Linked DNA regions of Homo sapiens: all the other regions are linked to region 1. The links come from fine-mapping of genetic effects on gene expression. A gene starts in region 1. Each other region holds a variant in brackets. All regions are shown on one strand. Distances are between the middles of the regions.

What was found.
Region 2: its variant is fine-mapped to the expression of EPPK1 in whole blood (TOPMed, PIP 0.93).
Region 3: its variant is fine-mapped to the expression of EPPK1 in whole blood (TOPMed, PIP 0.97).

What each region holds. Positions count from the first base shown.
Region 1 is chr8:143,876,328-143,880,480 of GRCh38, forward strand. EPPK1 (epiplakin 1) reads right to left here and starts at 2,140. Exons shown (of 2, transcript NM_031308.4): 1 at 2,111-2,140. RefSeq lists a silencer at 2,194-2,283 and an enhancer at 2,850-3,492.
Region 2 is chr8:143,828,926-143,833,078 of GRCh38, forward strand. PUF60 (poly(U) binding splicing factor 60) reads right to left here and starts at 390. Exons shown (of 12, transcript NM_078480.3): 1 at 355-390. The coding sequence starts at 378. It overlaps LOC107986985 (a long non-coding RNA gene), which reads left to right and starts at 355. Exons shown (of 3, transcript XR_001746138.2): 1 at 355-479; 2 at 921-1,113; 3 at 1,784-3,006. It also overlaps a transcript of NRBP2 not described here. RefSeq lists a silencer at 108-677 and enhancers at 462-1,161, 482-1,681. The variant C/T (reference allele first, on the strand shown) is at 2,193.
Region 3 is chr8:143,851,100-143,855,252 of GRCh38, forward strand. No RefSeq gene overlaps it. Among named protein-coding and RNA genes, the nearest start is that of NRBP2, 12 kb to the left of the region's middle. The variant G/GTC (reference allele first, on the strand shown) is at 1,908.

The sequences.
Region 1 (4,153 bases):
TTGAGGGCATCCAGTCTGGAGGACGGGGAGGCAGCCCCAGGGGCCAGGTCCACCCTGCAAAACTTGTTTCTGCACTTCCCCAGGAAGAGGCCAGGCTCAAGGGCACAGCCTGACCGGGGTGGCTACGGGGCTGTCCAGATCTGCTTCTGGGGGGTACATGAGACGGCAGGACAGGCCAGCTTCTCCTTCGTCCACCTGCTTCCTCCTCCCTTCCCTTCCTGAGGCCATCCTGAGACCACTCCCGGTTACCCCTGCCTCAGACAGACTCTGCTTCTGGGAACCCAGCCTGGGCGCTTTTGTGTCCACCTCTACTGGCACCTGCCTCCCCTAGGGCTGGGCCCTCTCCAGCACGCCTCGTTCCAGGACCCTCCAGGATCTGTGAGCCTAAGGCAGCCACTCACTATGGCATCCAGGCCAGACGAGGGGCTTCTAGGGGGTCAGGGCCCTGCCCTGTCCCCTGACATCCGGCCAGGGATGGCGGTGAGGAAATGAGAGGAGCACCTGATTTCCCAGCAAGGGGGAGGGGCAGTGCGGGCCAGGGTGGGGCAGGGCCAGCGAGGGCGGGGCAGGGCCAGTGAGGGTGGGGACAGCACCTTGGGCGGGCCCCTGACCTGCGCACAGGCCGCCAGCCCAGACAGGCCGCGTGCTAAGCGGGCCTCGTAAGCTCAGGCAAGTGGCTCAAGTTCCCCAAACAAAGAGGAGATCCAGGGAGGAAGGCTGGAGACAGGGCGCTTGGGAGCAGGGAGTCGGGGGCAGGCTTGCCCTGCGTGTGTGAGTGTGCCTGCCAGTGCATGCCCCGCACCATGCGTGAGATGCGGCCTGTGGCTGGCTGCACCACTCCCTATCTCTTCCTGACCTTGGGCCTGGTATGAACCCCTCTGGGCCCTGCCCCTTCCCTGGGCCCTGCCCCTTCCCAGGCTTGGCAGGAGGAAGGCCCGGGAGTGGGTGTCTTGACTCCATGTGGGGCCTGGGAGGGCAGCTGGACAGAGGGTCCGGAGCGAGGGGGGGCAGGGGGTGCAGCTTCGAGTGTGGGGGCATCTGGAGGAGGTGGCTGCTGCCTAGGAGAGCACGGGGTCAGGGTTAGGGTGATGGGGTGGGGAGGAGGCCGAGCAGATTTCCCCGGAGCCTGAGGCACAAAGGGCCCCTCCTGTGGATTCCCCACTTCAGGTGGCCCCCAGGCCCCAAGTGGTGGAGGGCCGTTCCTGAGGAGGGTGGGTCTGCATCTCTTGGGTGAGGTCACTGTCTGTCACCAGACTGCCCGGCAGGCCCCCACCGCAGCCTGGGACAAAGGTTGGGGAGGCTGCAGCCGCCTGCCTGAGTCAGGTCAGGACAGACCCTGGCAGCTGCCTGGGCCCACACAGGAGGCAGCAGCCTTAGCTTCTGCCCGGCTGTGTGCCCTTGTGGGAAGACCCCACCCACCTGCAACCTGCACCATGATCAGAGATCAGTGGCCCCAATAACAAGCTTGGCACAGTGCAGCGGGGGCCCAGGGCAGGGAAGCAGAGCCCTGGGCCCAAGTGATGAACAGGGCCCTTCCTGCCTCTGCCTCCCACGGGTCTCCAGGCGACCGTGTGACCGCTTACCTGACCCGGAGTGGCCACCCCTGGGACCGCTCACCCAACAGCAGGCAGCTTCCCCGGATCCGTGACGCCTCCCTCCCGGCAATGTTGCCAGGAGTCACCCCTCTCAATTTGTCGGCCTAGCTGCCTCCTGGCCTGGGCGTTCCCCACCCTGCAGAGCGTGCCCCGGGCGGTCCTCGCTGCAGGGAAAACCGCTGGGCCTGCGAGACCCCCGCCCCTGGCCGCCTCTCCCGTGAGGGCTCGGGGCCGGCGCCTCCTCTTCACCGGCGCCCGGGACTCAGGGGCGCCACTTCGGACTCGGAGCTCAAATTGCCCAGGGCGGGAAACCTGCCCGGCCAGAGCCCAAGACCCCGCTGGCCGCCGCGCCCCTACCCTGGCCTCGGCGTGCGGCTCCAGCGGGGATCCGGTTTCCTTCGGCGGCCGCCGCCCCGCCCGGCCCCGAGCCCGCACCCGCACCCGCCGCACCTGCCCGCACCCGCCGCACCTGCCCGCACCCGCCGCACCCGCCGCACCCGCCGCACCCGCCGCACCTGCCCGCTCGCCGCTCGGTCCGCAGTGTCTCCGCGCGCCCGCTCCGCCCGCATTTCAAGCCCCACAGGCCCCGCCCCCGTCTAGGGCGGCGCCCAGGTCGGGGCCCCGACGCGGGGCGGGGCGGGGCGGGCAGGTGCCGGAAACCCCGCGCGGCCCGGGCCTGGCGCTTGCACCCCGGGCAAGGGGCGGCGGCTGGGCAGCCGGGACCCTCCCCTCGTCCCCAGCAGGGAGTCACCGCGAAGGAACGCAGGGCGGGCGCGGAGGCGTCCTGTGCCCTTCAGAACAGCTTTTTTTTTTTGGGAAAGGAGTTTGGAGTGAAACGCGGACCGGCCAGAGCGGCGGTTTCTATCCCCACAAGCCACTAATGCGGTGCGGGCTGGTGTCCCTGCCTCCAGCCCCGACCCCACCTTGTCTGCTCAGCTTCCTGGGGACGCTGCTTCACGTCGTGTGTCTGCTGGGTCCAGGGGTCTTCAAGGCTCTCCTTGGCAGGCCCCCCTGCCCCCATGACGTTGTAAGAGCTGGGATGTCCTGCCTGGAGCAGTGCCAGGCCTCACCCCCCGGTCTGGCTCCTCCACCTGGGCACAGAGAATGTTCCCTGTCACCCTGGGAGTACCTGGTCCCCTCTCTGAAGCCCATCCTGGCACCCACCTTCCAAGGCTGGGGCATGCCAGAGACACTGGGCATGGAGGCTCACAGCCTCGGGGGCTGGCCTGGGGGCAGCCTCAGCCTGGCACGGGAACCTTCCATGGATCTTCTGGAGGGCCCTCCCCTTGGCTGCCCCGATATCCCAGGTGGGCAGGGCCACGGAAGTACAGGGCCCAAAGCCCCTCCTCCTCTGTCCCCAAGGCCCCTCCTCCTCTGTCCCGTAGTCCTGGAGGTCCTGAGGGCTCAGGTGCTCCCCACCCCCACAAGTGCCCCCTTCTCCCAAGCTCCAGCCCCCACCTCTGCCTGAGTCATTCTTGACCAGAAAATCATCCAGAGCCAGCCAGCCACCTCCAATGCACACCATGAGGGTAATTGCAGGCGCCCACGCAGGTGCAGGAGGGACAGGTTAGGCCTTCAGGGGTTAGGGTGCTTGGGACCACTGCCCTGGCTCTGCTCTCACCCACCCACCAGGTCCACACTCACACCTGCTCACCCAGGCTGCCTGGACCCTGTCCACACCTGCCACACTGGCCGCACAGCATGGCTGCTGCCGACTGCGGGGCCCTGACCCCAGAGGAGCTCTGGTGGAACCCGCATTTCCCCAAGGCACTGCCAGGCCAACCGCATCCATCCCCAGCCCTGCTCACCGGATGCCTGGACACTGTCTGTGTGGTCTTGCTGGGAGGCATGGTGGTGCTGGCTATGGCCTGTGGCCTGGAGCACACCCCAGAGCCACTTCTTCCTGCGGTGAGCCATTGCAGGCAGCGCCCCTGCCAGGCCACAAAACCTGGGTGTATGCCAGCCCCTCGCTGCAAGAAGGGGGTGTTAGGCTGGCCAGACCAAGCCTTCTTGTGTGCCCAGGGACGGGCCACATGCCTGTCTGCTCCTCACCCCTCCGGTATAGGCAGGTGGCACAGAGCTGGCCCTGCTCCGCTGCACCCATTTCTGCCCGTCACCCCTCCAGTATAGGCAGGTGGCACGGAGCTGGCCCTGCTCCGCTGCACCCATTTCTGCCCGTCACCCCCCTGGTATAGGCAGGTGGCATGGAGCTGGCCCTGCTCTGCTGCACCCACTGGCATCTGTCCCCTGGCTCCTCTCCCTCGGCTTTGTCTTCCTGTGACTCCAGATCCCCTGCCCTGTGGTGGCCCCCAGCCCAGTGACCTCTGGGGACACCTCTGGGGGCAGACTTGGGTGCCTGCCCTACTCCCCAGGTCCCTGGGCCACTCCCAGTCAGGGCTTCTGGGAGCCACCACCTCCCCAGGGGCTCCAGTCCAGTGCTTCAGCCCAGCAGTCCCCGGAGCCACAGGCCACTCCTCCAGCCCCCAGGCCTGGGCCTATACCACCTACACAGCAAGGAAGGGCATCAGGGAGGGTGTCAGGAGGTGAGCGAGAGGGCT
Region 2 (4,153 bases), 47 kb before region 1:
TGACCACGGCGCACACCCCCGTCGGCAAAGGGAGGACGACGACCCCCGCTTGCCGGACCTAGCGGACAGGAACGCAACCCCGCCAGGCTCGCCCGCAAGGGCCACACGCCGCGCCCAGGCCCCCGCCCCGCCCCGCCGGAAGCTGGGGTCCGCAGGCCGGAAGCTGAGGCCGCGAGCCGGCCGCCGGCGCGCGCCCGCCCCGCCCCCGCCTCACGCGACCCGGGGACACGAGGGAGTCCGCGCGGGACCTGGGAAGACCGCCGCGTTCTTGGGAGGCCCTCCGCGCCCAGGCTGGGTCGACGACCCGGCCCCGCAAGCCGAGGGCCGCCCGCGCTCATGGGGGGGCTCACTTACGAGAGCTATGGTCGCCGTCGCCATCTTGCGTCCGTCGCGGCCTCCGCGCGCGCCTCCCACTCTTGCTCCTTCCGCTGTCTCGCGCGATCTGGGTGCCGGTGCACGGAACTCTCGCGAGGAAGGAGGTAAGAACGCGCTTCCGGGGCGGGGAGGAACGGTAAACGCCCCCGGGAGGGGCGACGGAAGGGGCGTGCTCTTGGCCGGGCGAGGGGCGTGGCCCGCGCACCTCGGGCGTCTAGGGGCGTGCGCCGCGGGACTCGAGTCGGGCGTATCTCTCCGCGTGGCCGACGCGGGCGTGCGTAGTACCCTTCGCCGCCCGTCGCCCTTGCGGCCACTGCTACGCTTCTCTTCTCTGCCTTTTTTGGAGAAAACGCTGTCGCGTGCGTCGTCCAGAGGCTCTCCCCCAGGAGGCAGGCGAAAGAGCGGGGCCCTCCTGGGCTGGAGGAGTCTCGGGTGATGAAAGGCCCGCGTGTTTCAGGCTGACGTCGTGAGATGCGTCGTCCCCGCGTCGCGACATCCCTGGGACCGGGAGGCCCCGTTCAATTGGCAGCTTTTTCTCCTTCCAGGGAACCGATGACCCTAGGTTGGCTGACATCAGTCGCTAGACCCGCAGCCCGCAGGCCCCGTTAGTCCCTGAACTGGCTTTCATGGCCCAAGGTGTCTGTCAGTACTGCTGGGAAAGCTGCCTGTCCTGGACATTTGCCATCTGCTGCACCCAGTCCCGAGACCCCAACTCGGTCATCCGAAGAAGCCACATCTGTAAGCTCAGGCACCTTCAGCTGCCTAAGGCCACAAGGCATCCCGGGCAGGCCTCCTTTCAACCCTGGGAACATTTAGAATTTAATACAGACACTTCTACTTAAATAGGGCAGAATATTCCCCGCCTCCCTCCTGAAACCTTCCAAAATTATAGGAAAGGGGTTTTATAAAGACAAACCCTGCAAGGGCAAAGAGCTGGGATATTGCAGAGCTTAAGAAAGGTGGACAGCGAGAGCTACTCCAGCCCACTTGGCTATGGAGGCCAGTGTCTGAGGGTCGTGGGTGAAAGCACAGCTACAGAAAGGAAACCCCAGACCTCTGTCCCTACCCACCGGGGCTGGCAGGCACTGCAGTGTCTGAGACGTGAGCTCCAGGAGAGGAGCTCTGAGGCCCTGCTCAAGCAAGGCCCTGTCTGAAAGCCTGGGAGTAAGTGAGACTCTGGGTCCTACCCCTGCCTCCACCCCTGGGCTGGGTCTGACCACCCGCATGCCATCAGGCTTCTCAGAGAAGAGGGCTCCTCTCTGCAGCAGCTCCTAGCTCAAAAGAAAAGACTGGCAGGGCACCTAGGGGTAGAGTGTTGCCCAGTAGAATGGCCCAGCCAGATCCCTGGCCTCGAAGCTCACCAGGTCATAAGCCCCAGCCACTAAAAGCATCTCACTCTTCAATGCAGCTGGACAGCCCAGGATCACCAGACACCTGAGAAAGAAGAAAAGGGACTCAGAAGAAACAGAGACGATAAAGGAAGCCGAAGAAAAATGAAAACTAAAATGCCATTCTCAGTCAATAAAAAGGAACTGGGGGCTATAGAGAAAGAAACCTCGGGATGAGAAAGAGCTCTTAGAAATAAAACATGAGGGGAAAGTGAGCAATTCAATAGGCTTTTAAGATGAAGTCTTCCAGAATGTATAATGACAGAACCAGATAGCTGGAAAACAGAATAGCAGTAACACAGGTGGGTGCTCTTAGGGCTAGCCTGGCACACAAGGCCTCCACAATGGAGGGGGTGGATGGGAGGTGGGGGGCTGGTCTGCCACCACCACCAGGGGAAGCCACAGGCACCACCCTCTGGGGACAGCTTC[C/T]CTTGGCAATAATGTGCACGCAGGATGCATGGTGCCCAGGACTGTTCTTACACACATTCATTCATGGGATCCTCACAACCCAGTGCTATGCAATGGATACAGCTGTTACCCCATTTTTACTGATGGGCAACATCACAAGGCAGGGAGCAGCAGTAGAATGGCTCCAGAGCCTGTGTTCTTGCCACCACCATGACTGCATCTCAAAAGAGAAGTCCAGGTCAGGCACAGTGGCTCATGCCTGCCTTCCCAGCACTTCAGGAGGCTGAGGCAGGAGTATCACTTGGGCCCAGGGGTTCAAGACCAGCTTGGGCAATATAGTGAGGCCACGTCTCTACAAAAAGTAATTTTAAAAAACCAGCTGGGCATGGTGGCACACGCCTGTAGTCCTAGCTACTAGAGAGGCTAAGGTGGGAGGATTGCTGGAGCCCAGAAGGTGGAGGTTGCAGTGCCCTGTGATCACACCACTGCACTCCAGCCTGGGTGACAGAGCCAGACCCTGTCTCAAAAAAACAACAAAAACTCAACAGAAGTCCAACATCTAAATAAATTGTCCAGAAAATAAGGAAATGAGAGAAATCAGCAGAGATAAATCAAGAAAATTTCCTAGAACCAAACAGTCATGTTTTCTGAACAATGGGTGAAAGGGAAGTTGTATATCAAGACACATCATTGAGAATTACCCAAGTAATGGGGCAAAGAAAAAGAAGAGATCATAGGTAAAGAGTCAGAATTCAGGAAGGCACAAGAGTTCTTGGAACTAGAAGAAAATGACACAATACCCTTGAAATCCTGGGAATAAATGATTTTCAACCAAGCCAAGCTTTTTGTAGCTAGTCGCACTGTTAAGCATATGTGAGGTTAGCATAAAGACTGTGGGGAAAAGCAAGAGAGATCAGATTGTTACTGTGTCTGTGTAGAAAGTAGTAGACATAGGAGACTCCATTTTGTTTTGTACTAAGGAAAATTCTTCTGCCTTGAGACTCTGTTAATCTATGACCTTACCCCCAACCCCGTGCTCTCTGAAACATGTGCTGTGTCAACTCAGAGTTGAATGGATTAAGGGCGGTGCAAGATGTGCTTTGTTAAACAGATGCTTGAAGGCAGCATGCTCCTTAAGAGTCATCACCACTCCCTAATCTCAAGTACCCAGGGACACAAAAACTGCGGAAGGCCGCAGGGACCTCTGCCTAGGAAAGCCAGGTATTGTCCAAGGTTTCTCCCCATGTGATAGTCTGAAATATGGCCTCGTGGGATGGGAAAGACCTGACCGTCCCCCAGCCCGACACCCGTAAAGGGTCTGTGCTGAGGAGGATTAGTAAAAGAGGAAGGAATGCCTCTTGCAGTTGAGACAAGAGGAAGGCATCTGTCTCCTGCCCGTCCCTGGGCAATGGAATGTCTCCATATAAAACCTGATTGCATGCTCCATCTACTGAGATAGGGAAAAACCGCCTTAGGGCTGGAGGTGGGACCTGCGGGCAGCAATACTGCTTTGTAAAGCATTGAGATGTTTATGTGTATGCATATCTAAAAGCACAGCACTTAATCGTTTACATTGTCTATGATGCAAAGACCTTTGTTCACGTGTTTGTCTGCTGACCCTCTCCCCACTATTGTCTTGTGACCCTGACACATCCCCCTCTTCGAGAAACACCCACAAATGATCAATAAATACTAAGGGAACTCAGAGGCTGGCGGGATCCTCCATATGCTGAACGCTGGTTCCCCGGGTCCCCTTATTTCTTTCTCTATACTTTTGTCTCTGTGTCTTTTTCTTTCCTAAGTCTCTTGTTCCACCTTACGAGAAACACCCACAGGTGTGGAGGGGCAACCCACCCCTACAAAGACAAACAGGTAAAGACTCCACAACTTCCTATGCACCCTCTCAGGAAACCTGGAGGATGGTCCTTCTCAAACAGGGCAAATGAAGGAAGAGGAAAGCAGTACAGGACACTGGTGAAGAG
Region 3 (4,153 bases), 25 kb before region 1:
CCCCTTTGTGAACCCCATCATGAACTGCGTCACTAACCTGTCTTCCAAGCCTATTGTCTTGCTGCAAAGTCTACTTTGAATATAAATCAGAATATAGGCCAGACGTGCCGGCTCATGTCTGTAATTCCAGCACTTTGGGAGGCTGAGGCAGGTGGATTGCTTGAGCTCAGGAGTTCAAGACCAGCCTAGGCAACATGGCGAAACCCCAGCTCTACAAAATCTGCTGGGCATTTGTCTTTGACTTTCTAGTCCTTAAAAAAAAATCAGCTGGGCATGGTGGCACACACCTGTAGTCCCAGCTACTTGGGAGGCTAAGGTGGAAGGATCGCTTGAGCCCAGGAGTTCGAGGCTGTAGTGAGCTGTTGTACCACTGCACTCCAACCTGCGTGACAGAGCGAGACCCCATCTCAAAAAAGAAAAAAACAAAAAAAAAGAAAAAAGAAAAATGTGAATCTGAATATTCACTCGTTTTTTCTTTTGGGATTCTTTCCATAACATTCCTAATTTTCTTGCCACTAGAAGGATGACTTGGGCTGATCGGGGAGAAAATCTCTTTTTCGGATAGGAAGAAAAAAGCCACACGAATGTTAAAACTAACAAAAACAACAGTGTGCTTCTCCTTTCTGTCATTCTTGTGGATGTTTTTCAAACACTTCCAGGATTTGAATTTTATTTGTACTCACAACTGCTGAGTGAGTTAAGTGTTATTATGATGACCTTTTTTTTTCTTTTTTCTTTTTTTTGAGACAGAGACTCTGTCGCCCAGTCTGGAGTGCAGTGGCGGGATCTCAGCTCACTGCAAGCTCCGCCTACCGGGTTCAAGTGATTCTCCTGCCTCAGCCTCCTGAGTAGCTGGGATTACAGGCACCTACCACACTCAGCTAATTTTTGTATTTTTAGTAGAGACAGGGATTCACCATGTTGGTCAGGTTGGTCTCGAACTCCTGACCTCATGATCCACCCGCCTCGGCCCCCCAAAGTGCTGGGATTACAGGCCTGAGCCACCGCGCCCAGCCATGATGACCATTTTACAAAAAGGGAAACTGAGGCACTGAGCCATGAAGTCACTTTCGGAAGAGCCCACAGTTATGAAAGAGCAGTGGTGGCACCAAGGGCAGGGGTTCCATCCCAGGACTTGCCATCTGGCCCTTTGTAGGAGCATCCTTTGTACTTAGAGATTGGAGAGAAATTTTGTCAAAAGATCCCAGGAGTCTCCAAATCTACCCTGGTTCTAAACGTGAGGCGCAAGTACCTGGAGCATGGTGACTGAGGGACTCCCCTGGAGTGTGTCTGCCTCCCGTCACCACCTGCCCCAGAGAGTGCCACGTGCGAGTCCCGCTGGGAGGCCCCTGCGTCCTGCTGCCCCGCGGCGCATGCTGCCCAGCGCCCCAGCCTCCTGCACCCAGGCCTCCTCCCAGTCTCCAGCCGGCTGCTGTCCATCCAGATGCCACTCCAGTGCAGCCAGTGGAGCAGGGCCAGGAGTGTAGGTGGCCTGACCATCCCCTTCCCCAGGGCTCTGAGAAAGGCTTCTCCTCCAGCAGTGTTTCTATCCGGGGGGCACAGGGCAGCAGTGACCAGCACAAGCTTGCGGGGCGAGGACACAGCTTGGAGTTGGGCGCTCGTGAGTTCCCACCCTTGCCTTGAGGACCTGGGCTTGTTACACCCCCAGGACTCCGGTTCTTCACCTGTAAAATCAGAAGAGCACTTCTGGAAACTTCTGGGCTGGCAGAGATGGAGCACAGCCACTACAGCTCCTCTCTCCCTTTGGACAGAATATAAAAAGCGACTCCTGGAGGACTGTGAAACGCTAACAGTAGCAGCTGGCTGGGGAGGAAACTCAAAACTTACCAACAACTGGCATGGAGGTTTACTGTTTTTGTTTTGTTTTGTTTTGTTTTTCCCCAGCT[G/GTC]TATGTGCGGCTTTGATCTGAGGATGGGGGTGTCTCACAACTGTGCCGTGGGTGCAAAGACCGACAACCCCAATACAAACCCGCCTTTCCCTCTGCAAATAAGAGTGCGTAGGAGAAACCCCCACTTCCCTCTCCTTTCTCTCCTAACCCTGTCCCGGCCTGCTCTTTGGTGGCATCACAGACCCCTGCGATCCTGCACGAGATTCCACCTGTATTGACAGAGGAGCTGGGCACAGGGCTCTGTGGTCCAGAGCGTGTGTGTGCAAGGTCCCTCTCTTATTTTCCCTGTCTTTTCTCTTGCTGTGTTGCCCCGAGCAGGGCCCAAGTCGTGTGAAATGGATGACAGCACAAGGAACTAAGACTCTGAGAAAAACCCTGGCTTTCTAAATGGACTCCTCCTAGGAGCCTGAGTGTATGGGAACCCCACAGAGCAGCGACCTGGAGGAGGGGCCTCCACGCTGAGCATGAAACAACACAAGCTCGGTGCTTGCCTGAGCTGAGCAGCACGTGTGGGGAACAGGCCGCACAGCAACAGCCTTGAGAATTGAGCCAACACGGATCCACTGCACACAGCGGCTGGGATACGGCTTGTGGCCTGACCCAGCCGGGATGAGTGCCCGCCAAAGTGAAAATGCCAACATTCTCAAGCGCGTTCTCGCAGGGCTCAGAGCCTCGCATCTGATTATTTAAAACATCCAGGATACAACCCCAAATTACCCAACATGCCAAGGACTGGAAATTGGATCCGGTCTCAGGGGAAAAGACAGACAGTTGCTGGCAGAACCCCAGGACTCAGATGCTGGAGGGACCAGGAAAAGATTTCACAGCAGCAATTCCAGCCCGATGCTCCCCGCGGCAAGAGTGGACACCCCAAGAATGAGTGAAAAGACAGACGTTCTCAGCAGGTGGAAATGGTAGAAGTGAAAAACATATTACCTGAAGTAAAAAATCACCTGAAGTAAAAAAGCTGGCCAGGCACAGTGGCTCATGCCTGTAACCCCAGCACTTTGGCAGGCCGAGGCGGGCAGATCGCTTGAGTCTAGGCGTTTGAGACCAGCCTGGGCAACATGGAGAAACCCTGTCTCTACTAAAAGTACAAAAATTAGCCAGGCATGGTGGCACACAGCTGTAGTCCCAGCTATTCAGGAGGCTGAGGCATGAGAATCACTTGAACCCAGGAGGCGGACTCCGCAGTGAGCTGAGATCACGCCCCACTGCACTCCAACCTGGGCAACAGAGTGAGACTCTGTCTCAAAGTAAAAAAAAAAAAAAGGCTTACTGAGTGTCTCAATAGCAAAAGGGGGATTACAGAGGAAGGAGTCAGTAAACTTACAAAGAGATCAATAGAAATTATCTAATCTGAAAAACAGGAGAAAAGATTTTTTAAAAAAATGAACAAAGCTTCAGAGAGCTGTGAAACAATATCAAAACATCTATCACTTTTGTATTTGAAGTTCCAGAAGGGGAATGGAAAGATATTAGTACATAAAACATTTATTTTGAAGAAATAATGGCAGAAAAGTTCTCTAATTTAGTGAAAGATATAAACTTATGAAAATCAAAAAGTTTGGCCAACTCCAGATGGGATAAACTCAAATCAAATATTTTATGTATTTATATGTGTAAAATTCCTCACCAGCAGACTTTATTTACTTTTTTTGAGAGGACACAGCTTGGAGTGGGCGCTCATGAGTTCCCACCCACGAGCCAAGGTGGACACTCACTCTGTTGCTCAGGCTGGAGTGCAATGGTGTGATCTTGGCTCACTGCAACCTCCACTTCTTGGGTTCGAGTGATTCTCCCACCTCATCCTCCCGTGATTATAAGCAACATCACGCCCAGCTAATTTTTGTATTTTTAGTAGAGACAGGGTCTTACCATGTTGGCCATACTGGTCTTGAACTCCTGACCTCAAGTGATCTGCCCGCCTTGGCCTCCCAAAGTGCTTCACCTGCCAACTTTAAAAGAAAATGCTAAAGAAAGGTATTTAGCCTGAAGGGAATGATACCAGAGGGAACCTGGAACTTCAGGAATGCAGAAAGAGCAATGGAAATGGTATATATTTAGAGAACCATAATATGCTGTTTTCACTTTTTAAATCATTAAAAATATCTGGTAGCTCACGCCTGTAACCCTAGCACTTTGGGAGGCTGAGGCGGGCGGATCACGAGGTCAGGAGATCGAGACCATCCTGGCTAACATGGTGAAACCCCGTGTCTACTAAAAATACAAAAAATTAGCCGGGC